2 separate regions of the Homo sapiens genome follow, and region 1 is linked to region 2. Evidence: fine-mapped expression QTL. Tissue or cell type: cerebral cortex. Region 2 holds a variant in brackets; the other region holds the start of a gene. All regions are shown on one strand. Distances are between the middles of the regions.

Evidence for each region. PIP is the estimated chance that this variant, and not a neighbour inherited with it, causes the effect.
Region 1: RADIL starts here. The variant in region 2 is fine-mapped to the expression of RADIL in cerebral cortex (GTEx, PIP 0.96).

What each region holds. Positions count from the first base shown.
Region 1 is chr7:4,879,824-4,887,924 of GRCh38, reverse strand. RADIL (Rap associating with DIL domain) reads left to right here and starts at 4,209. Exons shown (of 15, transcript NM_018059.5): 1 at 4,209-4,329. RefSeq lists a silencer at 4,178-4,397 and enhancers at 4,107-4,794, 4,795-5,483, 5,213-5,507.
Region 2 is chr7:4,785,603-4,793,698 of GRCh38, reverse strand. It overlaps AP5Z1 (adaptor related protein complex 5 subunit zeta 1), which reads right to left. Exons shown (of 17, transcript NM_014855.3): 9 at 8,015-8,096; 10 at 7,271-7,449; 11 at 5,923-6,065; 12 at 5,405-5,545; 13 at 4,748-4,859; 14 at 3,770-3,867; 15 at 3,108-3,240; 16 at 2,812-3,026; 17 at 1-2,584. The coding sequence ends at 2,314. It overlaps MIR4656 (microRNA 4656), which reads left to right and starts at 5,060; the gene lies at 5,060-5,134. RefSeq lists enhancers at 97-771, 876-955 and a silencer at 1,346-1,465. The variant A/G (reference allele first, on the strand shown) is at 4,737.

The sequences.
Region 1 (8,101 bases), 94 kb before region 2:
TCTCTCTGTCTCATGCTCTCTCTCTCTCTCTATATATATATATATATAAATTATATATTTATAAATATATATAAATTAAATCTCTCTATATTATATATATGTATAATATATATATGTATAATAAAATCGAGAATGACTCGGGGGTGATGGTCAAGAGGTGGTCAGAAGACAGGAAGGGAGATGAGTTTCTGCGCTGGGAAGGGGCCCAGCATGAAAACACAGAGGGAAGGCTGTGGGGTCAAGGAGACCAAAGAGGAAAGGTCTCGGAGAAGGGAGATGACCTCAGAGTGCTTGAGGAAAGAAGTTCTGAGGGCTGGAGATCCAAGGCCAAGGAAGAGAGCAGTTGGAGCTGGGTTTTGCAAACCTACTTTATTCTAAGTGCAAAAGGAAAAGTTATGAGAGGGTTATAGGTGGAGGAGTAATAACATCTGGTTTAGGTTTAAGGAACATAGTGTGATTGATGTGGACTTGCTTAATAAAAAGGTAACAAAAATAAAAGACTGTGGGCGCACACAAGAGGACATGTAACCAGGTCTAGGAGACAGGAAGATCTTTCTGGATAAGGGGTATTAGTTATCCATTGCTACGTAACAAACTGCTGCCAAAACTTAGTAGCTGAGGTCAATAATAAACATTTATCAGCTGGATGTGGTGGCTCATGCCTGTAATCCCAGCACTTTGGGAGGCTGAGGTGGGTGGGTCACTTGAGGTCAGGAGTTCGAGACCAGCTTAGCTAACATGGGGAAACCCCATTTCTGCTAAAAATACAAAATTAGGTGGGGGTGGTGGCAGGTGCCTGTATTCCCAGCTACTCGGGAGGCTGAGGCAGGAGAATCACTTGAATCCGGGAGGTGGATGTTGCAGTGAGCTGAAATTGCACCACTGCACTCCAGCCTAGGCAACAGAGCAAGCCTCCATCTAAAAAAAAAAAAATTATCATCTCATAGTCTTTGAGGGTTGGGAATTTGGGAGTAGCTTTGCTGCAGGGAGGAGGGAGCTTTTTTGGCTCAGGGTCCTTCAATGGACTCCAGCTGGGATGTCTGTCACCTAAAGTCTCCTGGGGCTGGAGGACTCACATCCACCATGGCTCACTGACCTCAGAACTACTGATCTAAGAGAGAGCAAGGGCAGAAGCCACGTCTTTTATGATTGTGTTCCAGAAGTCACAGTGTCATTTTGGCAGTATCTTACTGATTACACAAGTCTGCCCTATTCAACATGGGCCTATACAGGAGCATGAAAACCAAGAGGTGGGAATCACTGGGGCCATCTTGGAGGTTGGCTACTACCAAAGAAACGCCTTATCTGAGTCTCAAAGGATGAGTAGAAATTAGCGGCCGGGTGTGGTGGCTCATGCCTATAATCCTAGCACTTTGGGAGGCTGAGGCAGGCAGATTGCAAGGTCAGGAGTTCGAGACCAGCCTGGTCAACATGGTGAAGCCCCATCTCTACTAAAATTACAAAAATTAGTCAGGCGTGGTGGCAGGTGCCTATAATCCCAGCTACTCAGGAGGCTGAAGCAGGAGAATCGCTTGAACCTGGGAGGCAGAGATTGCAGTGAGCCAAGATTGCCTCACCGCACTCCAGCCTGGGCGACAGAGCAAGGTTCCATCTAAAAAAAAAATATATATATATATATATACACACACACATTTGAAAAAAAAGAAGTTAGCCAGGTAATGAAGTTTGCTGTTATGGTCTGAATTTTGTCCCCCTAAAATTCACGTGTTTGTTGAAGCCCCGACCCCTCACACCTCAGAATGTGACTATATTTGGAGACAGGGCCTTTAAAGAGGTGATTAAGATAAAATGAGGCTGTTAGGATGGGCCCTAGTCTAATCTGACTAGTGTCCTTATAAAAAGAGGAGATTGAACACACAAAGAGACAGGTGAGAGGTGCACACCCAGAAGAAAGGCCATGTGGGGGCACAGCCAGAAGGTGGCCGTCTGCAAACCAAGGATAGAGGCCCTCAAAGAAGCCAAACCTGCTGACAACTTCACCTTGGACTTCCAGCCTCCAGAGCTGCCAGATAAAACATTTCCGTTTTTCGAGCCACCTGATCTGGCATTTTTTAATAGCAGCTCAGCTAATCTAATACAGTTGGAAAAGGTGTTTGAAGGTCAAGGGACCGGCCTGAGGGAAGATCTCGAGGCATGAAACAGCATATTCATACCAAAAAGTCAGCATTTCTAGATCAAGAAGCAATCTGAAAAGTTTCTCTATAAAGGGCCAGGTCATATTTTAGATATTTGGGGCTGTAAAATCCTGGTTGCAGGAAAGCAGTCGTAGATAATATCTAAACAAATGAGGGTAGCTGTGTTTGAATAAAACTTTATTTACAAAAACAGAAGGCAGCCCAGATCTGGCCCATGGGTTGTAGTTATCCGACCCCTGTGGAAGAAGGATGTGGGGACTGTGGGAGATGGGCCAGGAGCAGGGTGAGGAATATCTCAGGAGGAAAACCCAGGCCTGAACCCAGGCTCTCCTTCAGCTCTGACCATTGTCTCTTCATGCGCACCTGAATGAAATATTCAAGCACGTCATTCCTTTCAAGCATCCCTTCCTGGGGTAGGCGAGGAGGTTGGTGTGTATACAGAGGGTCCTGTATTCCTGGCTCAGTTCTTGTCTCTACCTCCAGCAGCCTGACCTCTCTGCGTCTCTATTTTCTCATCTGAAAAATGGGAGTATTACTGAACAAAAGGGTTCTGCGCTTGCTCTGCTAGAAGCCAATCTTGATCAGGTGCAGAGGTTCATGCCTGTAATTCCAGCACTTTGGGAGACTGAGGTGGGTGGATCACCTGATGTTAGGATTTCAAAACCAGCCTGGTCAACATGGCAAAACCCCGTCTCTACTAAAAATACAAAAATTAGGTGGGCGTGGTGGTAGGTGCCTGTTAACCTTAGCTACTCGGGAGGCTGAGGCAGGAGAATCGCTTGAACCTGGGAGGTGGTGGTTGCAGTGAGCTGAGATCACACCACTGCACTCCAGCTAGGGCAATAGAATAAGACTCTGTCTCCAAAAAAAAAAAAAAAAAAAAAAAAAAAAAAAGCCAATCTTACTGCATTAAGTTTTTGAGACAAAAGCTTTTTTTGTCCGTATTGTGAGTTGATCAATAAGGAGACAGGAGCCTGGCTCAAATCTGTCTCTCTGTGTTGACTTTGAGGCACTATTTTTTATTAGAAAAGGTTTAGGAGGTGGACTTTAGGATTAGCAGGTGATAGGTGGAGGAAAGGGGAGGCCTGGAATGTCTCAGACATCTCTGTCTCACAAGAATTGATGTGAGCATTAAGTGAGGTGACCTAGGTAAAGTTGCCTAGGGCCTGGCACACAGGTGGTCAATAAATGTCTGTTCCCACACTCATCAATGTCTGCTCCGACCTCCATCGCGAATATGGGGTCATGACTACGGAAATCATACCACGATAGCTGTCCACAAAAAGGTTCACTCCCGAGGCCCACATTCTGCATATTGATATTCCGAACCACCTGAATCTCCCAGGTCTAGCCCACATTCCTCAAAGGGAAAACCCCAGCCAAAGTGCCGAGGTCACGAGCTGCTTTTTAAACAAGTCCCCAGGGAGAGCAGTTGGGGCCAGAGCCCCAGAGCTGACCTGGTCATTTTTTTGCATAATTGTAAGCAGGAATGCCATGACCTGATTTGTCTTTTAAAACTCTGGGTGGGAGACAGATGGTAGGGGAGAGGAAATTCCTCCCTTGTTCCTTTTCGATGTCTTAGAAGATGTTTATTAATTGGGGGCACAGCTCTACCCTCCCCTACACCCACTCACTGGGCTACTAGAAGGTGCTGTCTCGAAATAGCCCACCCAACCGCAGGAGCCCAGAGCCCACAAGCAGCTCAGGGACTTAGAACTGGTCCCACCCTTCCTCCGGGGACCCCCCCTCCTTAAGCTGCAGTCTGTGGGTGGGCTGCAAGTCCCGCCTCTCCACAACCAGCCCCACCCCTTTCTTCAAAACCCCGCCTCTCCGGTGAGGCCCCGCCCCCTCGAGGCTGCATCCCCGTCCATTGGGCGGCCGGCAGGAGGCGCCAGAGCACAGCCCGCCTTTTCTAGCAGGTTGGCCCCGCCCCTCTCCTGGAGACCCCGCCTCCTCGAGGCTTTCTTTCTGCCTATTGGGCGCCGAGGCCCAGCTCCAGCCCACCTGTTCTCCCCCGCCCCACCCTTTGTGGCCCCGTCCCCTTGAGGCCCCGCCCCGCCCGTTGCGCCGCCGGCAGGAGGCGCCGCGGCACGCGCGGGTCTGGGCGCCGGCCCCAGCCAACGGCGGGTGGGAGCAGCGCGGGAACGTGGCGGCGCGGCGGGTTGTGCCGGAGGTGAGTGTGGGGTGCGCGAGGAGTGACTGCGGAACCGGGGGTGGCTCGTAAGGGGCGCTGCTCGGCCGCTGCCGGGGACCTGGGGCGCGGAGGCCGCGGGGCGCGCTCGGGGACACTCCCGGCCGCTGGTCGGGGCGCGGAGGGCAGGTTTGCCCAGTTGCCATGGGAACCGACTGGCTGTCGGGCCCCGGCCTGGACCGGGGGGCGGTACCCGGAGGCCGGCTAGCGCGGGCAAGGGCGGCCCAGCCTGCGGGGATCCGGGGGTCCGCGCTGCCGACCCCCGAGAGCTCCTGAGCCTGGCTGTCCGCGTGGGCCCCGGACCCCCAACTCCAGGGGACTCTCGGCCCTCAGTTTTCCCGGCTGTGCCCTGGAGGGGGAGCTTCGTCCGGGGCGCGCAGCGGGGGAGCGGGGCGCAGCGGGGGAGCGGGGCGCAGGGTTCCGCGCGCTCTCCCACCTGGGCCGGCGAGACGTCCCCTGCACATACCCCGTCCCGGTTGCAGCCCGATCCCCACTCGTGCGCCAGCTCAAAGCATTGTTTCCCGGCTATTTATGTACCATTTCCAGCCCCTCGACAAATACTGCATCCAAGATAACAGATGCTGAGCCGAGCTCCTGGGGCCTCGCAGGAGGAGCCTGTTGGTGGGGTTGGCAGGGCCCTGGCGGGGCTGCGGACCATCCTGCCCTGCCCTGTCGCCTGTCAAGTGTTTGGCTAATCTGAATTGCACAGAAGAATCTGATTGCTCGTGTCCCGCGGTTAATATAGGCCACCTCTTGTGCATTCCAGACAGGAACCAGTCTTGAAAGTCCCTTTTGCTGGGGGGCAAGTCGGTCTCCTCTCCAGCAGCTAGCAGGTCAGAATTAAATCTGATTGAATTATGTTTGCATTTGAAAGCGTGGCTCGGGCTGGGGCTGTAAAGATAGGATTCATGGAAGGAGGGGAGAGAGCTGAGTGTGTAAAGTCTGCGCTTCGTTTTCCCTCCTGCTGGAAATGATAATGGGTTCCACATTGTCCTGTTGGAGCAGAGAGGTCGCTCCACCCATGTCGTCAGCGCAGCACTGACCTCACTCCCTGTACTCGCCGCTGGGACTTGAGCTTGTTTTTCATCAGAAACTGGACCCTTCCTTGAGAACAAGAGAAAACATTCTCTAAGAGCAGCACCAGCCAGCGCCCCACACCCTCGCTGTCCGAGCCCTGCGCTTTCCCCAAGTATTTGTGTCACAGAGGAGCGAATGGGGCAGAAGAGGCCGGTCGCACTTCCAGAAAAACAGATCTTGTTACCCAGGGCGTGCTCCGCCCGGTCGGATTTTCCTGCACTCCCCTTGGCCTTTTAAAAAACGAGTCCATCCCATTCTCACAAACAGGCCAGGCTCCGCCTTCTGGGATTCGGAAGCGGGCAGCGTGTGAACAAGTGGGCACCCTCTGGTCTGGCCAAGGGAGGATGACCAAACGGAGAGAAATGCTTTCTGAAAATCCCAAAACAGATAAGGTTTGTGTAACAGGGACTTCTGGGGGCTTAAGAAGGAGTTATTGGAAAGGAGTCAATCATATTCTCTCTGCTTACATTTTCTCCTGTTTCATGATACTGCTAACTCTGCCTCTGCCTTCGAATCCGGCTCCGGAAACTGTGGGAAAAGCAGGGGTGGGGGGAAGTGGGGGGAACAACATTTCTGAAGTTCAAGCTTCTAAGACCCTGGGAGGAGACCTAGCAGTTGTGTGTTTGTAATTTTCTATTTGTTTTTTATTAAAGAAGAATTATGTAAATGTCAGACCTTACAAAACATATATCCACCCCTGGGCCCCAAATATCAACTCACTTTTCCATTGTATTTGGGGGCCTTTTTATAATTTTTGTCTTTTTTTTTTTTTTTGAGACGGAGTCTCACTCTGTTGCCCAGGCTGGAGTGCAGTGGCGTGATCTCGGCTTGCTGCAACCTCTGCCTCTGGGGTTCAAGCGATTCTCCTGCCTCAGCCTGCCAAGTAGCTGGGGTTACAGGCACCCGCCACCATGCCCAGCTAATTTTTGTATTTTTAGTGGAGACAGGGTTTCACCATGTTGGCCAGGCTGGTCTTGAACTCCTGACCTCAAGTGATCTGCCCGCCTCGGCCTCCCAAAGAGCTGGGATTACAGGCATGAACCACCATGCCCAGCCAATTTTTGTCTTTTTTTTTTTTTTTTTTTTGAGAGGGAGTCTCACTCTGTCGCCCAGGCTGGAGTGCAGTGGCATGATCTTGGCTCACTGCAAGCTCCGCCTCCCGGGTTCACGCCATTCTCCTGCCTCAGCCTCCCGAGTAGCTGGGACTACAGGTGCCCACCACCACGCCTGGCTAATTTTTTGTATTTTTAGTAGAAAAAGGGTTTCATAGTGTTAGCCAGGATGGTCTCGATCTGCTGACCTCGTGATCTGCCCGCCTCAGCCTCCCAAAGTGCTGGGATTACAAGCGTGAGCCACCGTGCCCAGCCATCTTTTTTTTTTTTTTTTTTTTTTTTTTTTTAACAGAGAGGGTCTCACTCCATTGCCCAGGCTGGAGTGACGTGGCGCAATCATAGCTCACTGTAGCCTGGAACTCCTGGGCTCCGGTGATCCTCCTGCCTCAGCCTCCCGAGTAGCTGGGACTACAGGTGCACACCATGCCCAGCTAATTTTTTATTTTTATTTTCTGTAGAGATTGGGATCTTGTTATGTTGCCCAGGCTAGTCTTGAACTCCTGGCCTTAAGCCATTCTCCTGCCTTGGCCTTTTAAATACTTGGCTCTGCTTCATGACTTTTCTGTGATATGGGCTTTCTCCTGCCTGGAGGGGGCTTCCCCAGTTTTTGGTATCGTATTTATATCAGCATTCAGACTTCATCTCCGGAGGCAGAGGTTTCCTGAGCCACAGCTGCCTGGTGGCAGAGGCTGTACCATCCACCACCTGCACTTTGCCTTTGCACCCTGGGGAACCCGTTGGAAATGAGCACTATGAAAAGGTGGTGGCCGACCCTCTGCCAGTGTGTGCTGCCTGGAGGCTTCTAAGCCTGGGGCATCTGGAGAGGTGCTTTGGAGCAGGGTTGTGCAGCTCTCATGGATGGTTAATAAGTGCCGGCTGGAGAGGCTCTTTGAGGGGTTTTGTTCTGTGATTCCAAGTACTCACTTTGAAAACTGACCACAGGAGACTGAGGTCAGACTAGAGGGCGATTGGAAGCCGCTGGTGTGGTGTGCACAGGCCAGGCCGCACGTTTGTGATGTGAGCACTGTCTGAAAATGCTTTTGTTGTAAATGAAACCGAGGCCTTTGATGAGTCCGTGGGGGAAGCTGCGGCCGGCTCTGAGCTTCTTAGGATTTGACAAGGCCACTCGTTGCACCTTCCTCAGAGGAAGAGAAACAAAGGCTTTGCTCCTTTACTCCTTTATGGCCTGGCTCGATGGAACCTCAAGGCTCCATCTGCTTATGACCTGTACTGGGAACTCCGTGACCTGTTACAGCAAATTCACCTCTTCAGAAAGCCAGGCACAGCGAAAGCCTTTGCCGTGGTGAAGTGTCCGCAGTGGGCTATAGGAACAGGAGAAGGGCCAGCCACCCACCCCGCAGGGCAGACGTCCGCGTTGGGAACCCAGTCTCTGGTGTGCGAAGCTGTCGGAAGTATTTCTGAAGAGTTCAAGGTCCTCGGAGAAAGCACAGCTGCTGGCTGACCTGGGCTGGTTCTGGAGGAAGCGAGTGGTGGTCTGATTTCAGGACTCACCCATGACAGCTCTGGCGGGCAGTGAGAGGCTCCAGAGAAGATGACCCACGCCC
Region 2 (8,096 bases):
GAGAAATCGAGCACAGCAGCTGCTGGTCCAGGTGCTAAGCCCCTCACTGCCCAGGCTGGCGGGGCTAGCCGGCGGCTCCGAGTGCGGGGCCCACAGAGCCCACGCCCACCCGGAACTCGCGCTGGCCCGCAAGCACCGCGTGCAGCCCTGGTTCCCACCGCGCCTCTCCCTCCACACCTCCCCGCAAGCTGAGGGAGCCGGCTCCGGCCTTGGCCAGCCCTGAAAGGGGCTCCCACAGTGCAGTGGCGGGCTGAAGGGCTCCTCAAGTGCTGCCAAAGTGGGAGCCCAGGCAGAGGAGGCGCCAAGAGCGAGCGAGGGCTGTGAGGACTGCCAGCAGGCTGTCACTTCTCACTTTCACTTAGCATATAATGTTTCTAAGGTTTATCATCTTTTCTGTAAATCTGAAAAACTATTCTAAAATTTCAGTTTATTTAAAAAAAAAGTTGAGAGCTGGTGAGCTTTGCCCTTTTCCCAGCTGCCTCCTGGAGGCCACCTGAAGGTTGCTCCTCCCTGGGCTGGGGTCATGCCCTCCGAGGCCCTGTGGCCATGAGCTCCTCCTTGTCCCTTGGATGAGCGGGACGGCCCTTCAAGTCACACTCCCAGTCCTAAGCCGGGCGCTGCTGCACAGGCTGCGGACTTAGCACCAGCTGGCCTGGGCGGTGGCCCCACGAGTGCCTGGGAGCTGGGAGCCAGGACACCCCCGACGCCTTCAGGTCAGGGAAGCCCCGCCCCAGGGCAGGAGGGGAGCTGCGGACTCAGTGGGAGACTCATTCCGAGCCTAGGGGCAGCCCCACGCTCTCTGAGCTTCGGGATGAGCCCAGCAGCGCCCCCACACCCACTGCTGCAGGCGGGGTCGTGCACCGCACTGGGAAGTGATCCCGAGACCCGCGCACTGGCACGCACGCCTTGGTATGCACAGTTGTACACGTGCGCTGCTGTTTCCACGTGGAAACACAAACACAGTGCTGCCGACGGAAGCGCCTGCCAGCGCCAGCCTTTCCTGCGGCCCCGGCTCAGCGGCCCTGGGCTGTCATCGCAGGCCGCGGGGGACACCAGCCGTCCTGGAGCTCGGAACGCGACCCAAGGCCCAGGCTGTGGGGCAGGCGAGCGCTTCCTGGGCTGGAACCTGGCGGTGAGGACCCCGCGGTTCGGCTCGGGCATCTGGGGAGCTCCTGAGCCCGCACGGTGTCCCCTGCTCCGTTCCTTGCGCGTCACTCGCCCCCTCCATAGTCCTGAGGCTGGGCAAGGGGCAGGACCCTGCAGTCGCCTTCAGCCTGTGGTTTCTTAGTCGCAGAGCTATGGGGGATTGGGGGCGGGGCCGAGGCCGGAGGGGAGGTGGGCGGGGCCAGAGCAAAAGAGGAGACCGGGGGCGGAGCCAGAGTGGGGAGGGGGAAGAGTTTGAGCCTGGGGGCGGGGCGTGAGGCTCTCGGGGCGGCGGCGCCCCCTGGCGGCTGAGCCCGTCCCAGGCACCGGGCGGAACGTGCGACACAGCTGTGCCTTGGTAGTCCGGAGGGTGGGACCACAGGGCCCAGGAAGGTGGCGGGGCTGGGGCCGCACGCCCAGACACCTCCCCTTCGCGCGAATCCAGTGTTCTGAGCTCCACTCAGGTGGCTCCCTGGGGCCTTCCCTCCGAATGGCCAGAGGCCGCAGCCTGCATAGGCCATGGCGCTTGCAACCCTCCCCCGGTCCCCTTCATCTTCAGGCTATTCAAGGGCATCAAAAGGGGCATTGACAAGCGCACCACCCAGAGCGGTGACCACACCCGGGAACTCGCGCCGCTGCCTTCCGGGCTGTGCACAAATGACCTGGTTTCTGTAGCAGCAGTGGCACGCCGGGCTGAGCCTCCAGGACTGGCAGCAGCTGCCAGGGGTTCCCATCCCTGGTCCTCTCCCCAGGGTGCAGGGCAGGTAACGGAACTGATCGCGCACTCTTCATACAGACGCTTATTAAAGGAGATTTACTTTTACTGCAGCTCTTCTTGCCCATCAACTGTCCAAAAACAAAAGACTAGGAAACAGACCCAGCAGCCTCCACCCGACCCAGCCACAGGGCCTCAAGCCTCCAATCAGAGCCGCTCCATGGCACCCCTCAGCTCAGCTCAGTGTTGCCTGGGAGCAAAAGGCTCGGAGACAAAGCCCAGAGGGTGAGCAGGGGGGCCAGCCCCGCGTGTCTGTGAGGGTGCCAAGCCCACCGTGGGCCTTGCCTCCTCTCCCAGGACTCCCGCGCCCTCCTGAGCTCCTATCAGCCTGGCCTCAGTAGCAAGCTGGCTGCCCAGGCTCTTAATCTGCACCGAAGTCCCTGGCCACTGTCCCTTCACCCTGGCATGAGGCCGGCCTCCCTCTCCACCAGCCGGCTGACCGTGCGCAGGGCCAGGGGCAGGGCCGTGTTGGCATCGCGGTGATAGCGGGGGCTGCACACCTCCGTGCTGGGTGTGAGCACAAACTGGGCCACGCTAGGCATCTTCAGCAGGGTCAGCAGCTCTGTGGCCCGGGTACGGATGGCTTCCGCGCCCTCCTCGCTGTGCGTGGAGCTGGTGGCTGGACTGTGAGCCAGGGTCCTCATCTTTGACAGCAATAAAGAGGCCCTGGGGAAAGAAGGTCCCTCCGTCAGCTGCAGATGCTCCCCTCCCAGGACAGGGGTCTGTGTGGAGGGGCCAGGCCTGAAGCGCCCAGCAGAGTGGCTTTAGCTCAGCAGGGCCCACCCAGGACCTGCGCTGCTGCGACCATTTCACAACACCTGGATGGGAAGACCTCAGAAGCCACCTCTCTTCCCCAGGAGCCAGAAGGCTTCGCTCCCTCCCTGACCAGGCACCTGGGGATCAGATCTTGGCTCCGGGAGGCCAGCTTCGTCAGCGTGGTCATCAGCACGGTGACCACCTGGGGGGGACACCTGGGCAGGGCAGCAGAGGGGCGGCACTGGGTGACCTCGAATAGCAGAGCCTCCAGGGCTTCGAAGAACTTGTTGATCTGCTCCACGGTGCACCTCCGATCGTAGGTCACCGACAGGTACTCGCCGATGGCCCACACCTAGGCCCGGGGACAGAGATTCAGCCCCCACCCAGGCCTCCTGGGTCAGGAGCGGCTGTGGGAGGCCAGCGCCCGCCTTACCACGCTGGTGACGAGGCTCGCCCTGCTGCAGAGACCATTCACGCTGCCCAGGAACTCCAGCAGGTCTCTTGCCAGCTCCACCACCAGGGAGGGTTTCAGCGTACACAGGGCCAGGAACTGAGAACTCAGCACACTGCCCAGAAAGCCGGGTCTACGCCTGCTCTGTGCAGACCTATGACCCCATCCCCATCCAGGCCAAGGGCCTGGAGAAACCCGGGAAGCGTCTGAGTGGTAGGTGTATGCTGCACCCTCCGATAGAGGAACACAGAAGACTGCCAGCCTCAGAGAAACTGTTCTCACTGGGGAGAAGGCTGGCACCAGCGCTGGCCTCAGGCCCAGGCTCAGAGTGGAACCAGGATGGGCCTGCATGCATCAGGCCTTTGGAGAGAAGGACCCCAGGGGACAAGACGGGGAAGAGGGACCTGAGCTAACCCTGAAGAGGACAGGCTCGGCAGAAAGAAGGACGGGAATGTTCTTGAGAAGCAGAGAGAAGTGCCTGGGGCTGGGTGTGGGGCTGTGGGTGGGGGTGGCAGGGTCTGAGGCTGCTGAGGGCCCAGCTAGGGGTGGTGCCGAAGCCACTGAAGGGGAGGGGGGAGGGGAGAGGGGGAGGAGTCCAGGAGGCACCCGCCCAGGGCTGTGGCAGGAGCGCAGGAGGGACCTACCTGTGCACACCGGCAGCGTACCCTGGGGCCGGGTAGAGCGAGTCGCTCCTGCCCAGGAGCAGCAGCGCCAGCTGGTTGATCAGGGACCCGTCAGCCACCTGGGGGTCAGGAGTGGGAAACAGGCTCAGCCCCACCCCCACTGCAGGCCCTAAGGTTGGGGGTGAAGCCATGGTGAGGGCTGGGGGGCAGGTGAGGGGCTGGAGACTCCTCGTCCACTGCCTTCCCCAACACCCAGGGACACAGAGACTCAGCTGGCAGCATCCGGGCACAGGGAGGGAAGCCCTGGGCTGGCCCAAGTGCCCCCGGCAGAGGTGTCGCTTCTGTTCCACGGCTCCTCTGCCAACTCCCGCTCTGCAAGGCCAGGCACACGTCTTGTTTGGCCAAGGGTGCGCCCAAGCAACGCCCAGCCCCCTGCCGGCCTCCCCACCTCCCAGGCTCTCCTGCACTGGCTTGTAGAGCTCCCCGAGGTGGGAAGCAGCAATGGGGGAGATGGGGGGCACCAGCCTGTGGGAGCCTTTATTTTGGCCTCAGATGGGGATGCTGAATTATCAGGGGCAGCAGGGGGACAAACTGCTCCGGCCCCAGCTGTGTGGCCAGAGCCCAGGCCACTCACTTGCCCTGTCCTGGGGACGGAAGACAGGGCCTGCTGGGGCAGTTGGATGGAGCCTGCTGGGATGGGAGACAGGACCTGCCGGGATGAAGGGGATGGGACGGGGATTGGGGGACGTGGCCTGCCGGGATGAAGGGGATGGGACGGGGACTGGGGAACGGGGCCTGCTGGAATAAAGGGGATGGGACAAGGGACGGGGCCTGCCGGGGCTGTGGCATGTGCCTCCCTGACCCTCACAGGGACCGTGGATGGTGGGTGTGGCGGGAGCAGCCTTCTGCAGAGCTCAAGAGGGCCCCCCAGTGCTGGCTCTGGCCTGCCCCTCAGTTGTGAGGCCTGTGGGAATGGGGGGCCCCAGGC[A/G]GCGAGCTCACCTGGGTCACTGCTGAGAAGAATGCCTGCAGCAGCGTGGGCACGGCCTGGGCACACTGGGCCACGCGGGCACAGCCGGCCATGGGCTGCAGCAGCTGGTGGAGTGGCGCCAACCTGAGGACACAGTGTGGCCGTGAGTGCTGCCCGCTCCCCGACCTGGTGACTGCAGGCCGGGGCCACGTCGCCACTGCTCCCTCTCGCACAGCTGAGCCCGCTCCCATCCTCACTCATCGCCTCTCGGGACCTCCTGCTCCCCTGGGTTTGGGGAGACCCCTGGCGTCAGCACACCCGGGACAGTAAAGCCATCGGGACAAAGGCTGGCGTGGGCTGAGGGCAGGAGGCCTGTGGCCGGTCCCAGGCCTCCTGCTTCCTGGGCTCAGGCTCGGTTTGTCCATCTGCAAAATGGAGCACCCACAGGGCCAACCTCCAAGCTTATGAGGGTTGATGTGGGCAGCAGAGAGAGCTGAGACCAGGCCCCGCCCCCGGCAGACCCGTGGTGCAGAAGCAGGGCCTCTATAATGGTGATGACGGGGACGCAGCCTTGTGTGGGACACAAAGCACCCTGGCCTCAGCCTAGGGCTGAGCAGTGAGCCCCACCCCAGTGGCTGTGGCCGGGCTCTCTGAGCCACTGGTGGCCCCCTGGCCCTAGGGCCCCGTACCTCTCAGTGGCGCCACTGGCCTTGGGGCGCAGCAGGTATTGGAAAAGACCCTGGAACTGCGGGTCCCGGAAGGCCTCCAGGCAGCTGGGGGCCCTGAGAGAGGTGTCCCAGAGTGGCCTCTCGGATGCAGCCGGTGCTGACCTGCGTGGACAGACGCCCAAGGCCAGGCTGGGATGCGGCCCCTGCACTCAAGGGCACCCCCGTCAGGGAGACACACGGCAGGTGTCCCTAATATCACAGCACCTCGGGTGCCAGGAAGGGCTTGGCATGGGAGGCTCCAGGCCTGGGCGTGAAGACGGGTGAGGCACTCCAGGGTGCAGGGGCTGCCCTTGGCAAGTGGCCAAGGGTGACAGACACACCCTGTCCTAGAGGTGGCTTTGCAGGGGAGGACTGGTCAGGTGTTGGGGGGGGAAGAAGGAGGGTCCCCGGTGTAGGGGTCAGGAGCAGCGAGGAGGGGGCCCAGTGTGTGGAACCAGCTGGCTGGGAGACGCAGCGCTGGCAGAGGGTGAGGGGCCCACCTGAGCTGCAGGTCCAGCACCGCCGTCAAGCAGGGCAGGTCCAGCAGCGCGTGCAGCATCTCCAGGGCTGTGCCAGCGTCCACCAGGGCCGGGAGGAGCGCCACAAACTCGGAGGTGAGGGGTGGGCTGTTCCAGGCCAGGAACTGTGGGCACAGCACAGCGGTTCGGACACGGCTCGGAGCTGTGGAGCAGGCGGCAGAGGGAGGAGCCAGCTAGGGCCCCACAGCTGTCCCAGACCTGCAGTCCCCAGGAGGGCTTCTACCTTTGCCTCCTCCCGCTTTTTATTTTTTTGAGACAGGGTCTTGCTCTGTCGCCCAGGCTGGAGTGCAGTGGTGCAATCATAGCTCACTGCAACCTCAACCTCCCAGGCTCAAGTGATCCTCCCACCTCAGCCTCCTGAGCAGCTGAGACTACAGGCACACACCACCATGTGAGGCTGTTTACTTTTTGTAGACAAGAGGTCTCCCTGTGTTGCCCAGGCTGGTCTTGAACTCCTGGCCTCAAGATCCTCCTGCCTTGGCCTCCCGAGGTGCTGGGATTACAGGTGTGAGCCACTGCCCCCAGCCTGTATCTACTTTCGTACCAACAGGTCAATAATTTTCCACTGTCCTGGTTTTTCTCCAGAAAGAGGATTCCCCACCTCAGTTGAAAAGACCTTACAGCGAGGCGAGGCTGCAAAAGACACTTCAAAAGCAAATGGCACCAGGCCGGGTGCGGTGGCTCATGCCTGTAATCCCAGCACTTTGGGAGGTCAAGGCAGGAGGATCATCTGAGGTCAGGAGTTCGAGACCAGCCTGGCCAACATGTCGAAACCCCATCTCTACTAAAAATACCAAAAATTAGCTGGACATGGTGGTGGGTGCCTGTAATCTCAACTACTCAGGTGGCTGACGCAGGAGAATCGCTTGAACCCAGGAGGCGGGGGTTGCAGTGAGCTGAGATTGCGCCACTGCACTCCAGCCTAGGTGACAGGAATGAGACTCCATCTCAAAAGAAAAAAAAAAGGCAAATGGCACCCAAGTGCCCAAGGCACCAGGCAGGGCTCCCGGGGGAGGGATCCTACCAGGCAGCAGCCCTGCCCCAGTGCTGTGAGAACAAACTCACCGTCTTGTGTCACAGCCCCCTCTCCAAAACACCCACAAGGGAGTTCTTGGACAGCACCGTCAATCACGTGACGCTGCAGGGACACCCCAGATCCCCACCTCACCCTGCACACCGCATTCCAGGCCCGGGACTCACAGGGCTCTATGCTCAGCCAGGACTCGCCCTGAACCCCGCTGGAAAGAGGGGAGGAGCCCCAGGGACTTACCATGCCCCTGCCCTGGCACCCAGGGATGCCCAAATATACCTTAAAGAGGTTGGGGAAGCTCAATCTGAGGGTGCTGAGGTGCCCGCTGAACAGGTGGAGGTTGTCCCTGCAGAACTGGATGAATTCAAAGGCCAGCATGGGGCTGTGGAACTGCTCCACCGGGATCCTGGTGAACAGGTGCTGGTAGACGGCTTCCGAGTCCACTGCAGCCGCTTCCCCTGCAAGACCAGGGCCCGCCAGGGCACACGTCTTGACCTCGCCCTGGCCGTGCTTCTGTGACTGGTTAGGGGCCCTGAGTCTCAGGCCTGCTCTCCAGGACACCAAGGGCTCCGAGGCGTCCTACGCTGGGACGCTGGGGAAGCGGCACTTGGTCTCCCTCGCCCAGGGACACGGACAGCTCGTGAGTCACACACACTATGGCACATTCTTTGGAAGGTGCTGGTTCCTAGACTTTCAGGTTTCCTGGGCTAGGGACACAGCAAAAAGAGTCTGTTTATTTCTCTATTTAAAAGTTTAAAAATTACCAACATCTGGCACAGCAATCCATCAAAAAGAAATATGAGCTGGGCACGGTGGCTCATGCCCGTAATCCCAGCACTTTGGGAGGCCAAGGCAGGAGGATCGCTTGAGGCCACGAGTTCCAGACCAGCCTGGGCAACACAGCAAGACCCCTGTCTCTATTCAATCAAAAAAAAAAAAAAAAAAAAGGGAAGAAGAAATTCCATCCTAAAACTAAAGGCAGAAGCAGAGCCCCGAGTCAGCGCCACCCCACCCTGGGCTCACCGTGGCTCAGGAAGAAGTGGGCGAGGGGCAGCAGCACCCGCACAGAGGCCGGGTCCCCGCGCACCCGCCCGTGCAGGGCCTT